7 linked regions of the Homo sapiens genome follow. The protein of the gene in region 2 interacts with the protein of the main gene of each other region in a pairwise test. Each region holds a gene or a part of one and is shown on either strand. Other genes may lie near its edges.

Region 1 (3,500 bases), on a different chromosome or scaffold from region 2:
TCTTTCTGAAAAATGCAGACTCCTTAATGTGACAAAAAAATCCTCTTGAATGTACTCTATGAACTCTCCCCTACTTTAATCTCAATGAAGCCAACATTTTTTAGTTGCCTGCAGTATATTTTTATGTTTCTATACCTTTATTTTTGTTTCCCTCTGAAACATTCTTCTCAGTCTGCTTCACCTGGCTAACTTCTGCACACCATTAATAGTTCTTTAACTATGATACTCTCCAGAAAGCTTTTTTGGACTTCTTTAGCCTAGGATTTCCCATGGTATTCTGGAAACATCTCTAGCACTATAATTTCTATTACCTTCCTGATGAGTCCATTTTCCCAAAACCATGAGCTCACTGAATCTCTTGCCCTTTGCACTGTGCCTGGCACAGAGCAGACATTCAATCAATGGAAGTTTATTGGCTGAAGTAAATAATCATTTAGTACCTTGTTGATAGCAGGATAACATCCTCTGTATGATTTCTGGTACTGGTATGCCTAGGTAGACAGATAGCTGATGGTAATCAAGGGAGATATTCTCAATGGGATTCTCCTTCACTTTGTCAATATCCTCTTGCATCATCCCAAGGCGCAGAAGAATATCTGAAACTTTTTTCCAAATTGAATTGAACTGTGACTCAGTGAGACCATTCATCAAAATCTCACTAAGGAGGATATCCCTGTATTTGCACAGTCTCAGGATGTCTGCAGATTTAGAGATGTCAGAAGATGGCGGTTCCATATTCCATCCTTTTTTGGGTGCAGGGAACACATTTAAATGTTTTATAAGAGCTAACAGGAGGCATAAGTCAAACTGTTTGGATTGCGGTAACTCCTTGTTAGGAGGATAAAGCAGATGCCATGATCCACCCAAAGGATGATTGGTCCAAAGATGGTTGTAGTAGGATTCCAGCACATTCTTGTGTATAAGAAGCTCTTTTTTCAAAAGAGGAGGTGGCATAGCCTCATCAAATATTTGTCGAACAATGTCAGTACCAGAAATAATAATTATATGAAGCAGATGATAGAAATAATTATAATCAAGCTTGAAGATAGGCATTTCATCTGAAAATAAATTTTGAGAAGTCAAGACATTCCACATTAATGCTCATTTTCTATTTGGTCTCTCACATTGTATCCTAAGCTCCTGTAGGATAAAAACTATTCCAAAAGAATGAAGGATAGTACAGTGCTTTGCCACAGCCAGTGCTCAATTAGCATGCTGCTTTCTGCCTGTCAAAAAACCTAAACAAAAACAACATGTTCCCAAGCAAAAGTAATAACAAAGACTAATCACCACAGAAGTCTTTCAGTCATCCAAGGTTTTGTTCAAGTAAATGACCTTTAGCAACAACATGGCATCACAGTATTAGGTCTTTAAAAATTCTGAAATTTGCCAAGAATGCTAATTGTCAATGTCTAACTATACTTTACTTAAACAATTATACTTTATCCTAATCAGCACTGCCCAATGGAACGTCATGTGATAAAATGTTTTATATTTGCACTAATACTCACTGAGCATTGGAAATGCGGTTTGGGTGACTAAGGAACTGAATTTTAAATTTAATTTTAATTAATTTAAATTTAAGTAGCCACATACAGCTAGGGACTGCTATACTAGATAGCTCAGATCTATATCAAGAAATGCCAAAAGATCTAGCTCCTTGCTACTCAAAGGGTAGCCCAGAGACCAGCAGCATCAAGCATCCACCTGAAAGCCTGTTAGGAAAGCACAGTCTCAGGCCCCACTCTAGACCTACTGAAATCTGCCTTTTAACAAAATTGCCGGATATTTCAAATATATGTATAATGCTTGAGAAACTGTGATCTAATAAACCTCATCTTCTCACCCCCTCAAAAAAAGATAAGTAGGTATTTCATCAATAACATGGAATAAGGCATGAAACTGAACTATTTGGTATTTTCCTGTTTTAACAGTGCTTTCAAAGGAGAAAAGTCGGCTGAAGTGAATTAGAAAGTACTAATAATTTAGTATATAATGGCATTTGGTGTTATATGGATATCAAAATATGTGTTTGTCACAAAATGCAGCCTTATTATTTTATCCTTCAAGATTCTATGTTTCAAGAGATTTATTAAATTAACGTTTTTGCTTGAAATACTTGATATACATTGTGGAGGCAAGTTAAAAAGCTAATGACACAGGGAGCTTTCTTTGGGTTACCAAATAAAAAGTTGGCTGGACTGCCACCAAACTATTCTTCTATGGGCCCAGGGTCCCTTAATTAAGGCCTCCAGGTTCTGGGCAGGACATTTCCTAGCACACTCCTAAGAAGCTGGCAGCTTAGTTTAGATTACTTAGCCTCAAAACTTGGCCTCAAACTCAAAATGTTCATTCCTTTCATGTAAGGGTACTCTAATGCTTGCTCTATTAAGAAGGAATGCAGCAAGGGAAGGAACAGTTGGTAGAAAACCTCTGCTGGAACACAATCCCACGGTATAGTCACAGCTATGCACCAGACCTAGCATGCCTCTCTATAGGATGTCAAGGTAATGTGAGATCCATAGATGTGCTGATCTTCCTGTCTGTGATTTCCAGCCTACACCAAGCGCTGCTTGCTGGTATAAACCCAAGCTCAGTGAATGACAAACACAGTAAAGACGTGGTTGTTAATGGCATGAAAGTTGACAGAGAAGTCAAAAATTTTAACATACTTTTCAACAGAAGGCATATAAAAATAAAATAATACCTTTTGTATTAAATTTTAAACTGATCTTCGGTCTTATATCAGTATCAGTTATTTTCAGAGATATCAACTTTCTATAACTGCAAAAGGAAAAAAATTAAGTTATAGTGGAAATAAAATAATACCAAAGTCAGTCAAGATTTCTAGTATGAGCATGGCTAAGTGAGTATTTTCATCTTCTCCTAGAAATAATTCAAGAAGGAGAAAAAATAATGAACAAATAGAGCTCACCAACAATGAAAACCCTACACTGTCACTTTCATTGGAATTATCAAGTAAGCAGTATTGCCAGATTTCATACTAAAACTATCACATTACAAACTTCCTTGCAAAAAGGCTGTGTGGTAGCAGAAAAAAAAGGAAAGAAAGCTTTGCATTGTAAGACAAAAAAAGCAAGCAAGCAAACAAAAAAATAGCAAATCTGGAAGTCCTCCCTGGCCCTCTCTTCACCATATAATATTTTTGGCAATAACTATTCCAAGAAACCCCAACTCATTTAACACCTACTGATTAAAAACAATAAAGATGCTAGTAGAACATCAATACAAATAATTAGAAAAATAAAAAATAAAGTAGCAAAATGTATTAACTAGACTAAGCACTAGGTAAATGCTGCCGTTAAACAGATGGCTTGGCTTTGAAATGAACCACGGAAAACAAAACAAAAAAATATTGGACAACAACGCTACAATGTAAGCTTAATGAGGAAAGGGATTTTGGTGGTGGTTGTTATTGTTAACTGATTCTATCTCCAGTACCACTATAACACTGTTAGTTGCACATTACATTGAAAAAA
Region 2 (3,500 bases):
ATTTCAAACAATTCTTCCTCATGTTTGGCCAACTGGGACCTGGATGGACTTTACCATTAAGAATGGCACAACTATAGAGTCATTTGCTTTTAGGAAAGATCAGCTGGGCACCCAACTGGCTAGATAATCGTTTGTTCAAACTGGTACACTGCAAGTGAAAGGAGGTACTGGGAATAATTATACCAGGACTTTCCCAGGCAGTCTGGGGTATGTGAGTCCTCTAAGAAAGGAAAAGGGGCCAGGCCACAAGGAAAGGAGGCTGTCAGGAAATGGGAAGGTCATCAGACCTCCACACTGGGTTTGAGCTTAGAGCTTGGTCTTCTTGTCAATACACTGAGGCAAAGACCTAGCTATTCAGGGTAGGCAAACATAACAAATGTTGGGGAAAAGTTTGGGTAATGAGCGACATTTACATGTCTGCATATCACATACCAGGCTTAGACTTAGGACAATAAAATTAATTCCAGACAACTGATCACGGAGTAAAGTCCCTGATACATTTAAGGTATGTACTGACACGAGGCAGGGCCAAGCCTGCGTATGTGAACTTCAGTTCTGCTACAACCCAGCAGGCCCGGGAAAGTATGACTGACGTGTAACTTCAGTGTTTGTCCTATGTTAGTTTTCTGAAGCAACCCAGAAGAAATCTTTTTCCATAGGAAATCCCTTCGAATATTTGAAAACAGCTTTTACAACTGCCCTTTATCTTTTCTTCTGTTGGCTAAATATATACAGTTTCTTCAGCCTTTAGAAATGTGAGGTTCCAAGTGGAGCCTACTGGTATTCCAGATGAAAGCCCACCAAGCCAGAGAAGGGTAAAATGAGTATATAACACATACTTAGAAGAAGGGAATTTTCTATTACTGCTTCACCTTAAGCTTGTGATCAAATAGCTCCCCCAAGAACTTTGTCGTAGAATAAAGTTCTATGGTACTGGAAAAGATGCTTGATCAACACCATTTGATTTGTATCAGACCCAAAAACCCTGTGGAGGAGGAGCAATTGAACTTGGTCACAATTATACAGACCTAGCTAATGGACTGGGAGTCCTGGAAGGGAAACAGAAAAAGAAGCAATGTAAATCTGAGAGAAAAAGTACTATAAGAAATCAAGGCCTGTTGATTGGGAAGGTAATGATACCAGCTACTATGCAAGGTTGCTGTGTGCTACCAGAAGAAGGTGGGGCAGGATATAAAGGAAATAACTATGTCAGTAGGAGCCCAGCTCTCAGCTGTGGGAAACCCTTCTGTGCACAAGAAGCCAGAAGCAGTGCTCTACTACCTGGAGAGAAAGAGAGAGAGAGCGCACAGGGGCAATGGAGGCAATGGAGTTAGGAGTCATAACGAGGCTGCTGGCAGGATACCAAGGGTATCAGGAAAACACTGCTCAGTGGAGCAGAAAGACTGAAGAGCTTCAGGCTCTATTTCCACATGGATTCTTAGAAGGAATTCCTGGGGAGGGAACTCTCCGGAAAAAAATCATTGACATCTTGCTAATCAAGAAGAAAAGTGGTACAAATCAGTAAGATCTGGAGTACTGCAGGTGAAGTCTGGGAAATGTCCATTACAGATTGAAGAGTCAAAATTAGATGTCATACCTTTATGATGGGTGGACTAGTTTCATTTGGCACCATCCATGCATATGACCATAATATTTAAAGATACGGAGCTTGAGATCTTTGATGATCTTTAAAAAAGGATCACACTGATTGGTTTCACAAAGAGTTACAGTAGGAGAGATCTTAATACCATTCATTACTGAAAATGGATACAGAAAATATTTCAAATATTCCCTTATATAACAGTTATTTCCTAGATCACTATGCTATAAATGTTTAAAGTATAATTGATAATTGCCAAATAACAAAAAGTAGGTACTTCTTTTTTTTTTTGAGACAGAGTTTCACTCTCGTTGCCCGGGCTAGAGTGCAATGGCATGATCTCGGCTCACCGCAACTTCTGCCTCCCAGGTTCAAGTGATTCTCCTGCCTCAGGCTCCCGAGTAGGTGGGATTACTGGCATGTGCCACTACGCCCAGCTAATTCTGTATTTTAGTAGAGACAGGGTTTCTCCATGTTGGTCAGGCTGGTCTCGAACTCCGGACCTCAGATGATCCACCCACCTGAGCCTCCCAAAGTGTTGGGATTACAGGCGTGAGCCACTGCACCTAACAAAAGTAGATACTTCTTACTTTGTAATGGCCTGTTGAAAAGTCTTAGAATTGTTCTGTACAGAGATTCATCTTTAACCAGTATTCTGGCTGCTTCCAAATTCACTGGATTCTCTAGCACTGGATTAGAAAGCATAACCTATAGGAAAACACAGACAACATATAATTTCAGAAGTAAACTTTTTTTAGAGCAAAACGACAAACCAATATATACAACTTTCAATAAGCATGTATTAAATGCTTACTATGTATGGATCTGGAAATAGATTAAAAAATAACATGAGACATAGTCTGTACTCTCAAGAAACCTAACCTTAGGCTCATGAATGTACGGTATAAAACTGTGATAGATCAAAAAGCAAGTTACAAGTTCCTTTCTGTAACTTGTTCCTTCCTAGCATATACATTTACATTGAATTTAAATTAAGATTATAAAAATTTTAGTTGATGGTGGTTAGTGTATTTAAAATTCAAAATATTTTAACCAACATTTCAAGTACACTTCCCTTGAATAACAGTGTGATAATTGAAAATGTATCTAATTTGTTATCAAGAAAGAAGTAGTTAGTCATTATGGTCTCAACTTGTATTGCCCATCACTGTAGGCACAGTCACAGGTGGTTATTTACATTTAAAATAATTAAAATTAAATAAAATTAAAAATTCAGCTCCCTAGTCACAGTGGTAACATTTCAAGTGCTCAGTAGCCACATATGACTAGTAGGTACTGTATTGAACGGTGAGATATATTGGACATTTCCATCAATGCAGAAAGTGCTACTGCGCAGCACTGACCTTCAAAGGAATACTGAATAGCTATTAAAATATTGATTATAACCATATGGAAGTTACTTGAGAGACAATGTTAAGTGAAAAAGAAACAGGCTGTATAGTTTACATACTCACGTGCCACATAACAATGTTTCACTCAACAACAGACGGCATATATCATGGTGGTCCCATAAGATAATAATACCAAATTTTTACTGTACTTTTTCTATATTTAGATACACAAATATTTACCATTGTGTTACAATGGCCTATAGTGTTTAGTACAGTAACATGTTGTATAGGTTTGTAGCCTAGGAGCAACAGGCTATAACATAGCCTTCGTATGTATTAAGCTATACCATCTTGGTTTGTGTAAGTACGCTCCATGATTTTCAAACAACGATGAAATGTGTAACAACTCATTTCTCAGAATGTATCCTTGTTGCTAAGCACATGGCAATATACATACCATAATAGCAATAATGTAAAAATTCAGGTTCATTCATTCATTCATTTTATTTAATATCTACCAAATGTCAGCATTGTCTTTGGTATGCTCC
Region 3 (3,500 bases), on a different chromosome or scaffold from region 2:
CACACAAAATTTCAAGGAACCCAGAATAGCCAAAACCATCTTGAAAAAGAAGAACATTGGAAGACTCATAATCTCCAATTTCAAGACTTACTACAAATCAACAGTAATCAAGATAGTATGGTACTAATATAAAAACAGGCACTGAGATCAATGGAATAGAATTGAAAGTCCAGAAATAAACCCTCATATTTACCATCAATCAATTATTTACAATAGTGCCAAGATGATTTAATGGAGGAATAGTCTTTCCAACAAATGGTACTGGGAAAACTGTATGTTGACATGCAAAAAAAAAAAAAAAAAAAAAGTGAAGTTGGACTAACCCTTACTATACCATATACAAAAAAAAAACTCAAAATGCATCAAAGACCTACATGAAGAGCTAAAACCGATAAAAAACTTGTATCTAGACTATATAAAGAACTCTTACAACTCAACAATAAAAAGACAACCCACATTAAAAATGGGCAAAGGATGTGAATAGACATTTGTCCAAGGAAGATCTACTAATGATCAAAAAGCCCATGAAAAGATGTTCCAAGTCATTAGCCATCAGGGATGTGATGACATGCAATACACAAGGAGATACCACTTCACACCTACAAGGATGGTTATAATTTTTAAAAAACAAATTTTGGCAAAAATATGGAGAAACTGGAATCCACATACACTCCTGATGGGAATATAAAATGATACAGTTGCTCTGAATAATGGCCTAGCAGTTCTTCCAATAGTTAAACCTAGAGTTACCATTTGATCCAGCAAATCTACTCCCAGACATATTTCCAAGAAAAATGAAAACATGTCCACATAAAAATTGCTACCTGAATGTTTATAGTCATATTATTCATAATAGCCAAAATAGAAACAACCCAAATGACCACTGTCTTAGTTCATTTTGTGTTGCTGTAACAAAATACCACAGACTGGGTAATTTATAAACAATAGTTTATTTCACTCGTGGTTCTGAAGCTGGAAAGTCCAAGAGCATGGCACCAGCATCTGATGAGAGCCCTCATGCTGTGTCATCCCATGGCAGAAGGAAGAAGGGCAAGAGACTACACATAAGACCAAGAGCAAGAGAGCAAGAGGGGCCCAAACTCACTTTTATAACAAGCCCACTCTCTCAATAACTAACCCACTCTGCCAGTAACAACATTAACCCATTCATGAGGGCTCTCATGACCCAATCACTTCTTATTAGGCTCCACCACCCAACACTGTTGCATTGGGGATTAAGTTTGTAACACATAAATTTTGGGGAACATATTTAAACCACAGCAACCACCAATTGATAAATCAATCAATAAAATATAATATAGCCATGTGCAACGTAACGATGTTTCAGTCAACAAGGAACCACATATATGACTATGGTATGGTCCCATGAGATTATATCACTGTTTTTTACTGTACTTTTTCTATGTTTAGATATACAAATACTTAACAGTGGGCTCCAGTTGCCTACAGTATTCAGTGCAGCAACGTGCTGTACAGGTTTGTAGCCTAGGAGCAAAAGGCTATTCCATATAATCTAGGTGTGCAGTAGGCTACACCATGTAGGCTTCTGTAAGCACACTCCATGACACTTGCATAATGAAGAAACTGCCTAATAATACATTTCTCAGAACATATCCCCATCACTAAGAAGTGCATGATTATATATCTATGCCATGGAATATTATTCAGCCATAAAAAAGAATGAAGTACTGATAGATGCTACAACATGAATGATGTTTCAAAATATGCTGACTGAAAGAAGGCAGTCACAAAAGGTTACATGTTATATAATTCCATGCATTTGAAATGTCTACAACAGGTAAATCCATATAGATAGTATGTAGACTAGTGGTTGCCAGGGGCTGCTAATTCTAGTAATTACCACTCTGTTAGACTCAATTTCGGTAGCAGTTTTTATGTGGGAGGAGGAACTGGGGAGTGACAGCTAAAGCAGGGCTGCTTTTGGAGGCATGAAATGTTCTAAAATTGTCGTGATGGTTGCACAACTCTGTATATACTAAAAATCACTGAGTGGTACATTTTAAATGGGTGAATTGTTTAGCATGTAAATTATATCTCAATAAAGTTGTTAATAAAAAATAAAAAAGAGTCACAAACCAAAATCATCCCTGAAAGCACTCTGAGTACTGGGCAGACAATACTCCCAATTCCCTAAACAGAATCCTCGAGACACACAGCTTTTAGATCCCACAAAATGATTTTTCTTTTTCTTTTTTTTTTTTCTTCATTTTTCTTTTTAGAGACAGCTCTGAACACAGAATGATTTCATAATCAGGGACATTTTTGAGACAGGAGACTTCATGGTTCCAGGCTTTGAGTGAGGTGGAGAACTCCTAAAGGACCCACCCAGGAGATGACACTGCCTGAACAGATAACTGTCCCTGTCGCCTCCCACTCCACTCTACAGCGACACCCCTTCCACAGCAGTCAGCTGTTTTCCAGGTACAAGAGACACCTCACCACCCTGGCCAGTTTACAGACCAGCTTTCGAGCCCAGAAATTTCCCTGTAGGAAATTTGTAAGGACCACTGGCTCATGGGGAGGAAATAAATCAATAAAAGGAAAAAAAAATGAATAATACTGTTTTTTTAAAGAGAGAATGGAATCATCCTTTTCTTAAGAAGACAGAAAGCCAAGGCATTATATTTAAATAAAAAATTTAAATAATTGAATGATTTTAAAAGAATTCATCTTATTAAAAGGTAGAGACCGGAAAAAAAATGAGAGTAAGAGAGAGGGCAAGAGAAAGGAAGAAAGAAGAGACAGGAGCTGGGCACAGTGGTGCGCCAGTAGTCCAACTACCTGGGAGGCCAAGGTGGAAGCATCACTTGAGGCCAGGGATTCAAGACCAGCTTGGGCAACATAGTGAGACCCCCCTCACCCCTACCTGACTGGTAAAAAATGAAAAAAATTAGTTGGGCATGGTGGCTCGTGCCTGTAGTCCCAGCTACTCAGGAGGCTAAGGAGAGAGGATCACTTGAGCCCATGAGTTTGAGGTTACACTGAGCTATAATCACCCACTGTACTCCAGCCTGGGTGATACAGCAAGACCCTGTCTCTAAAAAAAAGAAGAGCGAGGAAGAAATAACAGGGTTTCAAGGAACTCCGCCCTGATAAGTCTTTTTAGTTTCATGACACAAGCAGAGCAGGTTACTTGTGAGCTCCTCCAGGCCAGTACCCAGGAAGCTCCAGGAAGATGACGTTGGCCAGGGCTGGTGGGCTATGGCTCCCAGCTGGTCCTGGAACATGTGGCCCTGTCACTGAATCCAGACGCTGAGCTCCTTACCATGAGAAAAGAAACGTCGTCCTCCTTCATCTCCATCTGCAGCCGCTCGATCTCATGTGCCAGCACCTCCGTCTCCTCTGTGAGCTGCTTCATCTTCTCGTCGGCCAGAAGTTGCTTCTGCCTTGTCTCCTCGGCCATGGCATCCAGAATGGCCTGCTCCTCCACTCTCAAGAACTCGCGAAGCTTATCAAAC
Region 4 (3,974 bases), on a different chromosome or scaffold from region 2:
TCTAATTCCACAATATTTTCATCACCCAAGAAACACCATATCTATTAGCGGTATCTATTAGCAGTCACTTCCCATTCCCTCCTGCCTTAGTTTCTGGCAACCACTAAACTACTTTTTGTCTCTATGGATTTGCCTATTCTGGACATTTCATATAAATTAAAAACAATATATGGCTTTTTGTGTTTGACTTTTTTTTTTTTTTTTTTGAGACGGAGTCTCGCTGTTACCTAGGCTGGAGTGCAGTGACTCACTGTAACCTCTGTCTCCTGGGTTCAAATGATTCTCCTGCCTCAGCCTCCCTAGTAGCTGGGACTACAGGTGCCCGCCACCATGCCCGGCTTATTTTTTGTATTTTTAGTAGAGACGGGGTTTCACCATGTTGGTCAGGCTGGTCTCGATCTCCTGACCTCGTGATCCACCCGCCTCGGCTTCCCAAAGTGCTAGGATTACAGGCGTGAGCCACCGCACCCGGCCTTCTAAGGGTTTTATAGTTTTAGTTCTTACATTTAGGTCGTTGATCCATATTTAGTTAATTTTTGCATATGGTGTGAGGAAGGAAGTGTATAATTTTAATTCCTGCTTAGCCTGACGATAATCATGTGACCCTTGGTAAGTTCTTGCACCTAAGTCTCAATTTCCTTATTTGTAAAGTGAGAATAACAAATGGTAGCTAAATCATAAGATTACAGTGAAGATAGAAAATTTACGTAGAGCATTTATCACACTGCTTGAAGCATCCTAACTACTCGATAAATGCGGTCGGTGTTACAGTTATAACATGAGCGATGAATGCGTGCTTCCACAGTGGAGTGCCAGAAAGACCGGCAGCATTTCTGAGAAGGTAAACGGGAGGAAGTAGGCTTGCTTAGTCCACTTGGAGAAGCAGGTCTGGGATTGTTGTGAGAGTCTCTGCCCTAGGTAGACCACTGCCTCATGATCCCCTCTAGAGATTGGTAAAAATTCGAATTCTCGGGCCCCATCAGAACTACTGAAAAGAGCCTCCTGTGAGCACAGGGCTCGCAGTAAGTGGGGGTGACGGTGGTCGCGCCGGCAGCGCCGCCTTGGGCCTGCGGGAGGCGCCCGAGAGGCAGGGGCGACCACGGCGGCTGCGCAGAGTCCTCCCTATGCCGGCGGTCGCGCCAGCGGGATCCGCCTGGCTCAGCTGACAGCTCCCGAGAACGGAAGAGGCGGCGCGCCGGTTGAGCAGGGCGTCTCTAGGCCTGGTCGGCTGGCGGCGGTGAGTGGGCCCCAGGCAAGGGCGGAGGGCGGAACTTTGGGGTTCGGCACTGCCGGGCGGCCGGAAGGTACGGTGGGGATAGCTCTCTGGGCGCGCGAGGCAGAGAAGGGGACCGGGCTGGGACTGTACACTGGGCCTCAGTCCCTCAAATCCGGGACCGGGCGTCCGCAGCTCGGCTGGCCGGGACTCCCTTCGGGACGCTGAGGAGGAAGGGGAAGGTGTGGGCCCTGCTCCTTCGGGACGCCCCAGGCTGGCCAGCAGCTCACACATCCGCATTGCGCCCTCTGATCCCAGCGTTGGGGCGGATAGCTAGCGTTGGGCCTGCCCCTGTTTTGGGGCAGTCGCCCAAACGACGCCGCACGCCTAGTGGCGAGCTGAACCCAGACTAGGACACCCGAAGACCAAATGGATAGAGTGAGAAGGAAATGGGGGTTAGCAACCTGAATTGAGGTACTGGATTCCAAGTGACAGCTTCACAAGCTGAAATCTTGTAGGGTAGGTCATGAGGAACTGTTGAAACTGCTTGGAGTAGAAGTTCTTAGCCCTGGCTGCATATTGGAATCACCTGGAGAACTTGGAAAACTACTGAGGCCTGAATTAATTGTTCTAGGGTGTGGCCTGGGTATTGAGATTTTAAAAAACAGCTCCTCAGAAGATTCTAATGTGCAGTCAGATGGAGAACACTAACCTAAAACCATAAACTGCATGAATGAATCTCTCATCCCATTTGCAAATGTTTTAACAGGAAGAAACAAAAAGCTTAATTCAATTAGCACCATATACTCCCACCTAGTAAAATAAGACAATGTGAAAGGACCTAATACAGTACATAGTAGGTGCTCAATTAATGTAAATTGATTCTGAATCTCATTCTTATCTCATTTGGGAGTTACACATCCGAGAATCTGGTTTTTAATTATGGTTTTGTATATAGTATTTTTGCATATAATTTTAGGGTGTTGATAGGATTCTCCGTAGCCCATCTATAGACCACACTCCCTTTTCCCCTCACCCCAGTGAAGAAGCCTAGCTCTAAAGCATTTAGAATAAAACTTAAAAGTTTGTGTTTGTGTACTCTTGTTTTGTTTAAGTATTTTTCTGTTACCAAAATTAACCTTGAGTGCCACTGGCAGGCTTAATTCATGAACAAGAGAGGAAAAACTGGAGGGGAGTGGCAAATGAAGGAATACAAGAAGCAGAAGAGGAAAGGAGAAAAAAACAAAACAAAAAACAAACTGAAGAGATTGTTTGTTATGGGGCATGGTGTCCTGTACTTTCATATGACCTTGGTGTTCCTCCTTAGCTCCTCCCATAGCTGAGGGCAGACAGATAAAAAGTCCTCAGTCATTGCTGGGGACATGCAAATACTCCTTTAACCACATGGCTCAGTTAGCCTGCCCTAGGAGAGTAACATGCACTTGTAGATTAGGATTGGCTATATGTTAGGATATGTTTGACTTAAGCAGTGATCATGGAAATTCAGAATTTTAATTTGGAGAGGGTCCTAACACCATCTTTTGTATTTCTTTTCTGCAGATGGCAGGATTTTCATAATATATGTAGTATGAGTTCCACATCTTGGCCTCTTACCCAGCTTCAGCAGTCTCAGCTCCACCAGTTAGAGAATAAATGGGATTTGCATGAACTCCACTCTGAGCTGAAATACAGACTGCGGTGTTAATATCCTTTTCTTCTGATTGTTATTAACAGGTACTAACTGACCTCAAGTAGAACATGTAATTGTGTCTTAGATAGGGATGCAGCTTAAGCAGAGCCATGAACTAACATCTCCTAGAAAAAAAGTGTTTTTTGAAAATGAAATCATTTTTAATTTCATAGTATGACCTTTTAAAATGTAAAAAATCCTAACTTTTTACTTATGTACATTTTAATTAAAAATATTTTAGTTGTGAGGGAGGATATTTGCAAATGCAATTGTAGTTCAATATTTTAATTGACTGGTAGTTTTGTTTTATTAAAATGATTTTTGTAAATTCTCATTGCATATTTTTTTCACATTTAAATTATCTGAAATTGCTGTATCTTTCAGTTGATGCTATTTTAAAAAACATTGATTCATACTTTATTTTTTGAGACAAGGTCTTGCTCTGTCCCCCAGGCTGGAGTGCAGTGGTGCAAACACGGCTCACTGCAGCCTCAGCATCCAAGGCTCAAGCGATCCTCCTGCCACAGTCTCCTGAGTAGCTGGGACTACAGGCACACACCACCACACCTGGCTAATTTTTTATAGAGACAGGATCTTGCTATGTTGCCAAGGCTGATCTCAAACTGCTGGCCTCAAGTGATCCTCCTGCCTTGGCCTCCCAAAGTGCTGGGATTACGGGCATGAGCCACCATATCCAGCCAGTTCATACTTTAATTGTAGCTAATTTCTTTTTCTTTCTTTCTTTCTTTCTTTCTTTCTTTCTTTCTTTCTTTCTTTCCTTTCTTTCTTCTTTCTTTCTTTCCTTTTTTTTTTTTTTTTTTTTTTGGAGACAGAGTCTGTCTCTGTCACCCAGGCTGGAATGCAGTGGTGCAATCTCAGCTCACTGCAACCTCTGCCTCCTGGATTCTAGTGATTCTCTAGTCTCGTGCCTCAGCCACCGAGTAGCTGGGATTACATGCGTGTACCACAATGCCCGGCTAATTTTTTTATTTTTAGTAGAGATGGGGTTTTGCTGTGTTGGCCAGGCTAGTCTTGAACTCTTGGCCTCAAGTGATCTGCCTGCCTTGGTCT
Region 5 (3,500 bases), on a different chromosome or scaffold from region 2:
CAGCTCTAATTCTATGTAGCCTTTCTTATGCCTGTAATGGCATTTGAACAAATACGGCTGCAACGTATTATAGAAAGAAAGCAAAAGTTAAATACACAGGACTCTACCCAAGGAGCCCTTGGGAGTCAGGGAGAAGGGAATTCAAATACCAGCTGCATCCCTTACTAGCAAATTACCCAACCCAGGATTCAGTTTCCTCATCCATGAAAGGGGATAGTTCTATCTACCACACTAGAAGCTTAAGTGAGATAAATGTGTATAGCACAAGTCCTATCAAATGCTGATCACTCAATAAATATGGGCTTCTATTGCTCTAAGCTAGATCAGTGGTTCCAGGAGTGTGGTCTGGGGATGAGCAGCCATCAGAATCACCCTAGAACTTGTTATATGCAAATTACTGAGCCTACTGAGCTTAACCTATGCAATCAATATCTCAAAGTGGGACCTAACAACCAGTGGTTGTGATGCTTCAAGAATCTCTGTTGTGGAAGATAAAAGACCCAGGGAATTCTGTTCTTGTGTAATTCTTGCCGTTTCAGGTACTCCTAAGGCATACTGGGCAGGCCATAATACTTTCTCCACAATGTCTTTCAAAACACCTCTAGAATAGAATCTTAAGTATTTTCCCAGAAAACAAAGAACTCTAACTTGCTTTAAGAACATAGCTAATCTAAAAAACTCCACTGTCACAATTAGTTATAAAATCATTTTGACTTGCTCCTTTCAGCTCTAGAAAGAGCTTTAAAAGCCCTAGGTTAAACCTTCTCTACTGTCATCAAACAAAGCCCAAAACAAATTGGCTTTTTTAGCCATTCTCTGCTTATTGTCTTAAATGTGGAATGGAACTAACTTAATCCCCAGCGTCCATCATCTCACCCCCGACAGAGTGAAAAGGTTTAGCATTTCTGGTTTTCACCACAGAACGCCGAGAAAGTGAAAAGGTTTAGCATCTCCAATGCATCCTCTCACCTTGAGCTCCTGGATAGCTGCCTCAATAAAGCAGGACTCGGGAGTGTGCTTCTCCTCTGCCAGCTGCTGCTCTAGTGCTACTTTCTCCTCCAGAACTACCCGGTGCAGCACCTGCTCCTTAGAGGCCAGCAGCAACTTGGAGTACTGGCTGTGCTGTTCATCTATAAGAATGCCAGCAAGATCAAAGAAATGCAACATTCAAAGCTCACGATGGTGTAGCTAAATAGGAATTTTCAAATACAGCCTTTTCTCTGGGGTGAAAATGGGGTAATTTAGCATGATTTCCTAGAAAATAATTTAACAATGGTCTTAAAATAAGGTCTGTAGCTCTGCTCTTGATATAAGAAATCTAAGAAACCCAGAGATGTAGTCAAAACTTTAGTCACGCGTTTATTGTTACAGCATTGTATGTAATATCAGAAAAGCTCAAACCAGCCAGGCACCATGGCTCACACCTGTAATCCCAGCACTTTGGGAGGTCAAGGCGGGTGGATCACTTGAGATCAAGAGTTCGAGACCAGCCTGACCAACATGGTGAAACCCCGTCTCTACTAAAGATACAAAAAAGTTAGTCGGGCCTGGTAGGGCATGCCTGTAATCCCAGCTACTTGGGAGGCTGAGGCAGGAGAATCGCTTGAACCCAGGAGGCAGAGGTCGCAGTGAGCCAAGATCATGCCACTGCATTCCAGCTTGGGCAACAAAAGCGAAACTCTGTCTCAAAAAAAAAAAAAACAAAAAAAACCACACACAGAAAAAGAAAAGCTCAAACCAACCAGTAAAACCAACAATAAAGAATAAAGAAATGGTGGACCAGCGCAGTGGCTCACACCTATAATCCCAGTACTTTGAGAGGCCAAGACAGGAAGATTGCTTGAGTTTAGAAGTTTAAGACCAAGCCAGCTGGGTGTGGTGGCTCACGTTCAGCACTTTGGGAGGCTGAGGCAGGTGGATCACCTGAAGTTAGGAGTTCGAAACCAGCCTGGCCAACATAGAGATACCCTGTTTCTATTAAAAATACAAAAAATTAGCTGGGCGTGGTGACGGGCGCCTATAATCCCAGCTACTAGGGAGGCTGGAGTAAGAAAATCGCTTGAACCCAGGAGGCAGAGGTTTCAGTGAGCCAAGATCGCACCATTGCACTCCAGCCTGGGCAACAAGTGCAAAACTCTGCCTCAAAAAATAAAATTAAAAAAAAATAACACCAGGCGGAGTACGGTGGCTCACACCTGTAATCCCAGCACTTTGGGAGGCTGAGGTAGGCGGATCACAAGATCAAGAGATTGAGACCATGCTGGCCAACATGGTGAAACCCCGTCTCTACTAAAAATACAAAAACTAGCCAGGTGTGGTGGTGCGTGCCTGTAATCTCAGCTACTCAGGACGCTGAGGCAGGAGAATCTCTTGAACCTGGGAGGCGGAGATTGCAGTGAGCCGGGATTGCACCACTGCATTCCAGCCTGGCAACAGAGTGAGACTCCATCTCAAAACAAAAACAAAAACAAAAAAAGCACAACACACACACACAAAAAAAACAAAAATTAGCCGGGCGTGGTGGCAGGTGCCTGAAATGCCAGCTACTCAGGAAGCTGAGGAAGGAAAATCGTTTGAACCGAGGAGGTGGAGGTTGCAGTGAGCCGAGATCACACCATTGCACTCCAGCCTGGGAAACACAGCAAGACTCCGTCTCAAAAAAAAAAAAAAAAAAAAAAAGAGTAGTTCAAGACCAGCCTATCAACATAGCAAGACCTCATCTCTGCTAAAAATAAAAATAAAAAATTAACTATACCTGCATGCCCAGTTAATTTTTTAAAATAAAAAAAATAATTTAAAATTAAAAGTTAATTTAATTAATTAAATTAATTTTAATTATTTTAATGAATTTAATTAATTAAAAGTAATTATTGCCACTGCACTCCAGCCCAGGCGACAAAGTGAGATTCCATCTCAAATAAAGGGTTAATGACATGATGGTATGTTCATTAACGAAAATTCTGTGGACACTAAAAGTGGTTTTCTTGGCCGGTCACAGTGGCTCACGCCTGTAATCCCAGCACTTTGGGAGGTAAGGCGGGCAGATCACTTGAGCTCGGGAGTTCGAGACTAGCCTGCCAACATGGTGAAACCCCGTCTCTACTAAAAATACAAAAAAAATCAGCCAGGCATGGTGGCGGGCGCCTGTAGTCCCAGCTACTCGGGAGGCTGAGGCACGAGAATCGCTCAAACCCGGGAGGCAGAGGTTGCAGTGAGCCAAGATCATGCCACTGCACTCCAGCCTGGGTGACAGAGCCAGACTCTGTCTCAAAAAAAAATATATATATACATATTATATTATATATCTATAAATAAAATAAAAATAAAATTTATCAGTCTTTTACAGCATCTATCATTTCAGCCTGGTTCAAAAATCCACCCATATCTGAGGATTTTTTTTTAATTAATACACATTTTTAATGTTTTAAGTTGCTAAACATTTAAACAGTCAAAATCACTAGGAAAAAAATATTACACACACACATTTACCACCCAAATGA
Region 6 (3,001 bases), on a different chromosome or scaffold from region 2:
TTAGACCTAGTGGCAGAAAATTCTTCAGTGGTCCCTAAGTCTTCTTCATATTGCACTCACTTGGAGACCTTTCAAATAATAGATTACTGGGTCACATCCCAATATGTCTGGTCCTAGTGAATTGATATTGTGTGGAACAGAGAAATCTATTTTTAAAGCAAGCTTTCCACATGAGTTACATTCAACCAGCCAACCTCTGGCTGGATTGACTTTATGAACCACTGCTGCAGGTAATAAGCTCAATTTGGCAGTCCTGGGTCAAATAATACATGGCTATAGATTTTATAATAGTTACATTTCAGATTGCTTAGTCTCTTAAGCCAGTTATGTTGAATTTGAAGCACTATCATCCTTTGTAAAGCTAGTAGATCTAACAATCTTTCAAAATCCTATTATGTATTATTTAATGATTTCATTTTGGTGCACTCAAGAGGTGGTTCTGTATATGGCTCAGCTTTGAGATGTTTGTATCCTTTGGGAAGTTTTTCAAATGCCTGGTTCCAGGGAGATTTGAGAAGTACAGCATTACTTATGTAATTTGAGGAACAGGAAAGAAAGAAATTTGTAGATGAACAGAACTTACTATCTTCATAGAGTTATGGAGTGGCTGCCAGCAAGAGACAGTGTTCAGATGTGGATGATATTTGTTCAATATGTCAAGCTGAATTTCAGAAGCCAATTCTTCTCATTTGTCAGGTAATTACATTTTTAAATTTAAAAACCTAAATACAACAGTTCTCTGTGACTTGCAAAAGTCAAATTTATGTTTGCTGTAAGGCAAAAAAAAAAAAATCTAGTGTTTAGTGGAAGGTAGCATTCAGGGTACATACTAGTGGATTGGCTAAGTTTTGTCCCTTATGTTCTGATAATTTTTATGCAGAGGAGCGTATGAAGGGGAAAAAATAATTCAACTGGCAGATTGAATACCAAAGTGATTAAAAAACAGGCTATTTTATAATTGGATACTAGCCATGTAGAACAATACTGACATTTGTTACTGGATTGTGGCCCTTTCCTATACTTTATGGCAGTTACTAGTAACTCAAAGACCTTAAGCAGTTATCATACTTAATCTTAAAGGTGTCACCTAAGGATAGCTTTTATGGTTAAATGGATGGTACAGCCAGAACACTAGTGGCTCTACCAATCATACTGCTCTTTGTCTTCTTGAATGTCTCATACGTTCTCCATTTTCACAATTGTAAAATGAGGGGATTAGTGCTCTTCAAAATCCCTTTCAGGCTGGACACAGTGGCTCACGCCTGTAATCCCAGAACTTTGGGAGGCTGAGGTGGGTGGATCACCTGAGGTCAGGAGTTCAAGACCAGCCTGACCAACATGGTGAAACCCTGTCTCTACTAAAAATAAAAAAACTAGCTGGGCATGGTGGTGGTGGTCACCTGTAATCCCGGCAACTTGGGAGGCTGAGGCAGGAGAATCACTTGAACCAGTCGGGGGCGGAGGTTGCAGTGAGCCGAGATGGTGCCATTGCACTCCGGCCTGGGTGACAGAGCAAGACTTCAGTCTCCATCTCAAAAAAAAAAAAAAAAGAATCCCTTTCATTCCCTACAATGTGATGGATTTAAAATGATTATCAAATATCAAATCTAATTCTTAATTCCATTACAGCATATATTTTGTGAAGAGTGCATGACCTTATGGTTTAACAGAGAGAAAACATGTCCACTCTGCAGAACTGTGATTTCAGACCATATAAACAAATGGAAGGATGGAGCCACTTCATCACACCTTCAAATATATTAAGTTGTATAAACTATCAAGGCCACAAAATACTAATGTCATTTGGTCATAATGACTACTGATAAGGCATCAGAATGGATTTTCAGGGCTACCAGAAAAATGTTTCCAGATGGTTTTAGAATGTAGGACTTATGATCCAATTCACCAAAAGATTAAATGAAACCACCCTGTGTTTTAAAATATATATAATGTTCAACCTAATGTATATGCAACATTTATTCTATTCTAATTATTTGACAGGTAACTGCAGTGTTAAATTGTAAATGTGTTTTCTTTATGTTACCAAAACAGCAATTTGAAATTAGAACTAGTGGTTTTAGAGAACTCAGGTATTCTTTCCTGACATTGTTTTCAGAATAAAGAATATTTTTCATAATATTTTAAGATACATACTATCTAAAAGTAGAATTTTGTTCAGCATTGACTTTTATAATTCCCATCCTAAAAATTCTTAATATTTTCATAAAATTTGTATTTTTAAATGAAAATTCTAAATGTTGTATTTTATCAGTAACATTTTCTAAGTGAAGATTAATTTACTGAGGATGATACATTATAGTATTGTATTATTCTCTGTAGTAAGATTAGTAATAAGTGAAAATAAATGATTTAAATTCATTTTGTCTCTGGACGTCATAAATTCTTCCTGCCATCAGCTTTAATGTTCATGATCATGCTTTTTGTATAGTACCATGGAGTATCTCGAAGTAACTATTAAAATAATTCATGTGGATTATAAACAGCTGGCTTACTTGATGATTTGAATAGTATAGAAAACAAGACAAATGGCCAGGCATGGTGGCTCACACCTGTAATCCCAGCACTTTGGGAGGCAGAGGCAGGAGGACTGCTTGAACCCAGGAGTTCAAGACCAGCCTGGGCAACATCCCATCTCTATTTAAAAGAAAAAAGTTTCAAGACAGATGCCCTAAAATCTTATAAAAAATTGCCCTTATAATTAGTCTTCTCCATAAAAGTTTTGGAATTTTATGCTTGAATCACCATCAATTGGAAGATTGAAGCTCGCACTGAGAGGTGGTCATGAGGTTTTGATAGTGTGGTTTGTTCGCCTCTAGGTATTTGTGCAGGGTGCTAGAAAAGAGAATGAAGCACTTTCTCCCCTTGTTACCTCTAAGGAGGAATCTGAAATCTAAAACATGTCTGAAGGGCTGCTAGTGCTTATATCCAAGTTTAGAGTACATCTATCAGTTTGTAGTCGAGGAAAAGGTGGTAGAAAGAA
Region 7 (3,500 bases), on a different chromosome or scaffold from region 2:
GGTAAATTCCTTAGTTCTCTATTTGGGCTAACAGATATTTGAAGATAAAAGAAGGATGAGGAAACATTCAGGAGGAAAGTGACATAAAATATATAACTGTCACTTTAAGACAGAAAAATTATGGTTTTCTTTTTCAGTATTAAAATAATGATTGGTTATTCTTACTGGTATTTGAAAGATCTTTGAATGCTACCAACCATAATATAAAGATTATGTTATTGCAGGGACCAGCTCTCAAACACCAATTCCTACTATAATAAAAAAAAGAAATTTTTGATATTGTCATATAACATAATACATTTAACCCTGCTTCCTTCATGGTTGTGGTAACAAGGATGTACAAATGTCCCAGGACCATACTGGGGTAATCTGACGGTGACAGTACCTTGAAAAATAAATACACTTTAGGACGTAGCACCCTTATAGAAAATGGTCACTAATGATTGTATGATGACATAAAAACGGGAAGGAGTGGTGGCCGATTTAGTTTTAAATCATTTAGTTGTTGTTTTGTCCTTCCTCAGTTCAGCTGTAAAACCAAGGCTTCCCACTGTTTAGATGCTTTCCAAACAGCTAAAAGAAGGCGTGACTAAGCACAGAAGGTGGTGAGAACAGCAGGTGCAGCCATCACTTCCTTCACAAATTTGTTAATAAAAATGCATTCTTTCAATACACATTAATGGAACACCTATGGCGGGCCAGGCACTCTGCTTAGTGCTAGGTATGCCAGAAAAATGAAGTCAAAAGCCTGCTCCAGGGTGACTACAACACCCACAAGGAAAGGGGAGGAAGACCTGGCCGACAGCCTTACATGGTCCTGGGGCAGGTGCAAGAATGCTGCTGTGAGAGCGAGGATCTCTTCTGCCTGGGGTGGTCAGAAAGCCTGATACTGAGCCAAACCTGGAAATGGTGGTAGGACTGTGGCTGGTGTGCACGCATTCAAGGGGAGAAGTGGTGAATGTGTTCCAGTCAGAGGCGGCAGCCTGTGTATTGCTATTTCCATGACCATTTACTGAAGGGGCTACTGAAAACAGGAGGTAGAACAAGCATTTGCCATCTGTCTTGCCTCCAGGATGAATTACTCTTATCTTAGGGAACCAAGACCTATTATATTAAGACAACTTTATCTCGACCTTCTGAGCCTCTAGTCAATTTATGGATGGTACACAGGATACCACTGGCTACTGTACACATGTCCTATGAAAAGCCATGGGCAGAACCAAGAAGAGGGAGGGCCTGGAACTATTTTTTTAATGTAAGACCTACTCCCTAGTTTGGATGTTGCTGACCGAGAGCAAAAGATGCCAAGAAGTAGTACGGGCAAATAAGCTTCAATTTAAAAAAAAAATTTTTTTTTGAGACAGTCTCGCTCTGTCTCCAGGCTGGAATGCAGTGACACCACCTCGGCTCACTGCAACCTCCACCTCCCAGGTTCAAGTGATTTTTCTGCCTCAGCCTCCCAAGTAGCTGGGACTACAGGTGTGCGCCACCATGCGCAGCTAATTTTTGTATATTTAGTACAGACTGGGTTTCACCATGTTGGCCAAGATGGTCTTGATCTCTTGACCTTGTGATCTGCCCGCCTCAGCCTCCCAAAGTGCTAGGATTACAGGCGTGAGCCATCACGCCCGGCCATAAGCTTCAATGTTGACTGCCTTGTGTCACGCATCAAATCAGCCAGAGAGGCATATAGAAACATCAGTTTTCCTCCTGACCATGTGGCCACAAGTAAAATATGAAAGAGGCAGAATTTGGGAATGTATAAGCAAGAATGGTAAGAAAATGACTTGGACCTCCCTCTTTGCACCAAAATAAGAGGGCAGTTGAGGGGAAACAGACAGCTACAATAAAGGCTGAAGGAGAGAGAGAGAGAGAGTGTGTGTGTGTGTGTGTGTGTGTGTGTGTGTGAACATTCCACCCACGGGTAAGTGGAGGAATACTTTTTTTTTTTTTAGTGTGTGTGAACATTCCACCCATGGGTAAGTGGAGGAATACTTTTTTTTTTAGTGATGTAATCTCGTTCTATTGCCCAAGCTGGAGTGCAGTCCCATGATCATAGCTCATTGCAGCCTCAACCTCCTGAGCTCAAGCAATCCCCCCACCTCAGCCTCCCAAGTAGCTGGGACTACAGGTATACACCACCACACCTGGCTAATTTCATTTTTTAAATTTTTTTGTAGAGATGGAATCTCATTTTGTTGCCCAAGCTGGTATCGAACTCCCAGCTTCAAGTGATCCTCCTGCCTTGGCCTCCCAAAGTGCTGGGATTACAGGCATGAGCTACTGCGCCCACCCTGTATTTTTATTTTAAATGAAAAATAAATATAAAGGAAATTATGAAAAACAGTGTACAACTGACACAATGTCCTATTTTGTCATACTTAAAAACTGAGAATATTGGTTTCTCAGAATTGTTCAGTATTTCATTTCTCCAGTTTATCAAAGAAATGGAGAGAATTTGGCATGTCTCATCTGCAGTGACATTTCAGTCTCACGTTCATGCTTACTTACTGCCTCCCTCCTCAGGTGGCTTCGATGCTAACTGTCATGGTCTAAGCTGTTCTGGACAATGCAATGTGGCCATGTCTCTAAAAGGAATGAAACATTAAAAAAAAAAATCATTATATACCATTTAAAGCTATCTGGGTCCTCACTGGAAAAAGACAGATTAAATATACATTGAGAAGGAAAAAAATTTTTTTTCAAAACAAGTATATATGCATATATAGAGGATATATGCTCAAGCCTGATTGTCTTTCACTACAACTGTAGGATTTCAAATAGGATTCCCTTTTGTAGTGGTATCTCAGTGACAGTTTTAAAAAAATAATCGTGGGCCGGGTACAGTTTAAAAAAAAAAAAAATCGTGGGCTGGGCGTGGTATCTCATGCCTGTAATCCCAGCACCTTTGGAGGCTGAGGCAGGAGGATTGCTTGCGTTCAGGAGTTTCAGACCAGCCTGGGCAATGCAGGGAGACCTCATCTTTACTAAAAATAAAAAAATTAGCCAGGCATGGTGGCACATGCCTATAGTCCCAGCTACTCAGGAGGCTAAGGTGGAAGGATTGCTTGGGCCCAGGAGGTCGAGGCTGCAGGAAGCTACGATCATGCCACTGCACTGCAAGACCTTTTTTCAAAAAAAATAAAAAAAAATAAAAATAATAATAATAATATATGGTGACATCAAAGAAGATTTGGATAAATGAAGTTCTGCTAAAAAGACAATAATAATTCCAAATGTAGATACAAAAACTATAAAAATGTACAAAATAAACTAGCATAAATGATACTTTCTGCACACAAAACATTACCGTTTGTCTACAGATTGGACAACTGATTGCCCCAAGCCATGAACCATATCGCCAGTAAGCAATAATGCAGGCACCTAATAGACAAAACAAAACAAACACATAACCCATTAATATTGATGTTTTAAAGTCCACATATCCTCAGAAAGATTCAACTATTTGAAATATTTTAACAGTACCACGTTATTTAAAA

The links.
Region 1: the proteins of UBE2U (region 2) and DZIP3 interact in a two-hybrid assay, tested with the Homo sapiens proteins (one large-scale study listed by BioGRID and IntAct).
Region 3: the proteins of UBE2U (region 2) and TRIM35 interact in a two-hybrid assay, tested with the Homo sapiens proteins (one large-scale study listed by BioGRID and IntAct).
Region 4: the proteins of UBE2U (region 2) and RNF14 interact in a two-hybrid assay, tested with the Homo sapiens proteins (one large-scale study listed by BioGRID and IntAct).
Region 5: the proteins of UBE2U (region 2) and RNF10 interact in a two-hybrid assay, tested with the Homo sapiens proteins (one large-scale study listed by BioGRID and IntAct).
Region 6: the proteins of UBE2U (region 2) and RNFT1 interact in a two-hybrid assay, tested with the Homo sapiens proteins (one large-scale study listed by BioGRID and IntAct).
Region 7: the proteins of UBE2U (region 2) and RNF170 interact in a two-hybrid assay, tested with the Homo sapiens proteins (one large-scale study listed by BioGRID and IntAct).

The regions. Positions count from the first base shown.
Region 1 is NC_000003.12:108,641,722-108,645,221, reverse strand, and holds part of DZIP3 (E3 ubiquitin-protein ligase DZIP3), read right to left. Parts: intron 2,785-3,500; coding exon 2,708-2,784; intron 1,059-2,707; coding exon 441-1,058; intron 1-440. UniProt on the Homo sapiens protein: E3 Ubiquitin ligase proteins mediate ubiquitination and subsequent proteasomal degradation of target proteins.
Region 2 is NC_000001.11:64,213,623-64,217,122, reverse strand, and holds part of UBE2U (ubiquitin-conjugating enzyme E2 U), read right to left. Parts: intron 2,309-3,500; coding exon 2,191-2,308; intron 1,687-2,190; exon of another isoform or gene 1,598-1,686; intron 1-1,597. UniProt on the Homo sapiens protein: Catalyzes the covalent attachment of ubiquitin to other proteins.
Region 3 is NC_000008.11:27,290,773-27,294,272, forward strand, and holds part of TRIM35 (E3 ubiquitin-protein ligase TRIM35), read right to left. Parts: coding exon 3,308-3,500; intron 1-3,307. UniProt on the Homo sapiens protein: E3 ubiquitin-protein ligase that participates in multiple biological processes including cell death, glucose metabolism, and in particular, the innate immune response.
Region 4 is NC_000005.10:141,967,931-141,971,904, forward strand, and holds the start of RNF14 (E3 ubiquitin-protein ligase RNF14), read left to right. Parts: upstream 1-1,174; 5' UTR 1,175-1,237; exon of another isoform or gene 1,238-1,850; intron 1,851-2,773; 5' UTR 2,774-2,947; intron 2,948-3,974. UniProt on the Homo sapiens protein: E3 ubiquitin-protein ligase that plays a key role in the RNF14-RNF25 translation quality control pathway, a pathway that takes place when a ribosome has stalled during translation, and which promotes ubiquitination and degradation of translation factors on stalled ribosomes.
Region 5 is NC_000012.12:120,558,356-120,561,855, reverse strand, and holds part of RNF10 (E3 ubiquitin-protein ligase RNF10), read right to left. Parts: intron 1,131-3,500; coding exon 970-1,130; intron 1-969. UniProt on the Homo sapiens protein: E3 ubiquitin-protein ligase that catalyzes monoubiquitination of 40S ribosomal proteins RPS2/us5 and RPS3/us3 in response to ribosome stalling.
Region 6 is NC_000017.11:59,951,740-59,954,740, reverse strand, and holds the end of RNFT1 (E3 ubiquitin-protein ligase RNFT1), read left to right. Parts: intron 1-594; coding exon 595-696; intron 697-1,629; coding exon 1,630-1,764; 3' UTR 1,765-2,501; downstream 2,502-3,001. UniProt on the Homo sapiens protein: E3 ubiquitin-protein ligase that acts in the endoplasmic reticulum (ER)-associated degradation (ERAD) pathway, which targets misfolded proteins that accumulate in the endoplasmic reticulum (ER) for ubiquitination and subsequent proteasome-mediated degradation.
Region 7 is NC_000008.11:42,862,106-42,865,605, forward strand, and holds part of RNF170 (E3 ubiquitin-protein ligase RNF170), read right to left. Parts: intron 3,385-3,500; coding exon 3,311-3,384; intron 2,589-3,310; coding exon of another isoform or gene 2,546-2,588; exon of another isoform or gene 2,508-2,545; intron 1-2,507. UniProt on the Homo sapiens protein: E3 ubiquitin-protein ligase that plays an essential role in stimulus-induced inositol 1,4,5-trisphosphate receptor type 1 (ITPR1) ubiquitination and degradation via the endoplasmic reticulum-associated degradation (ERAD) pathway.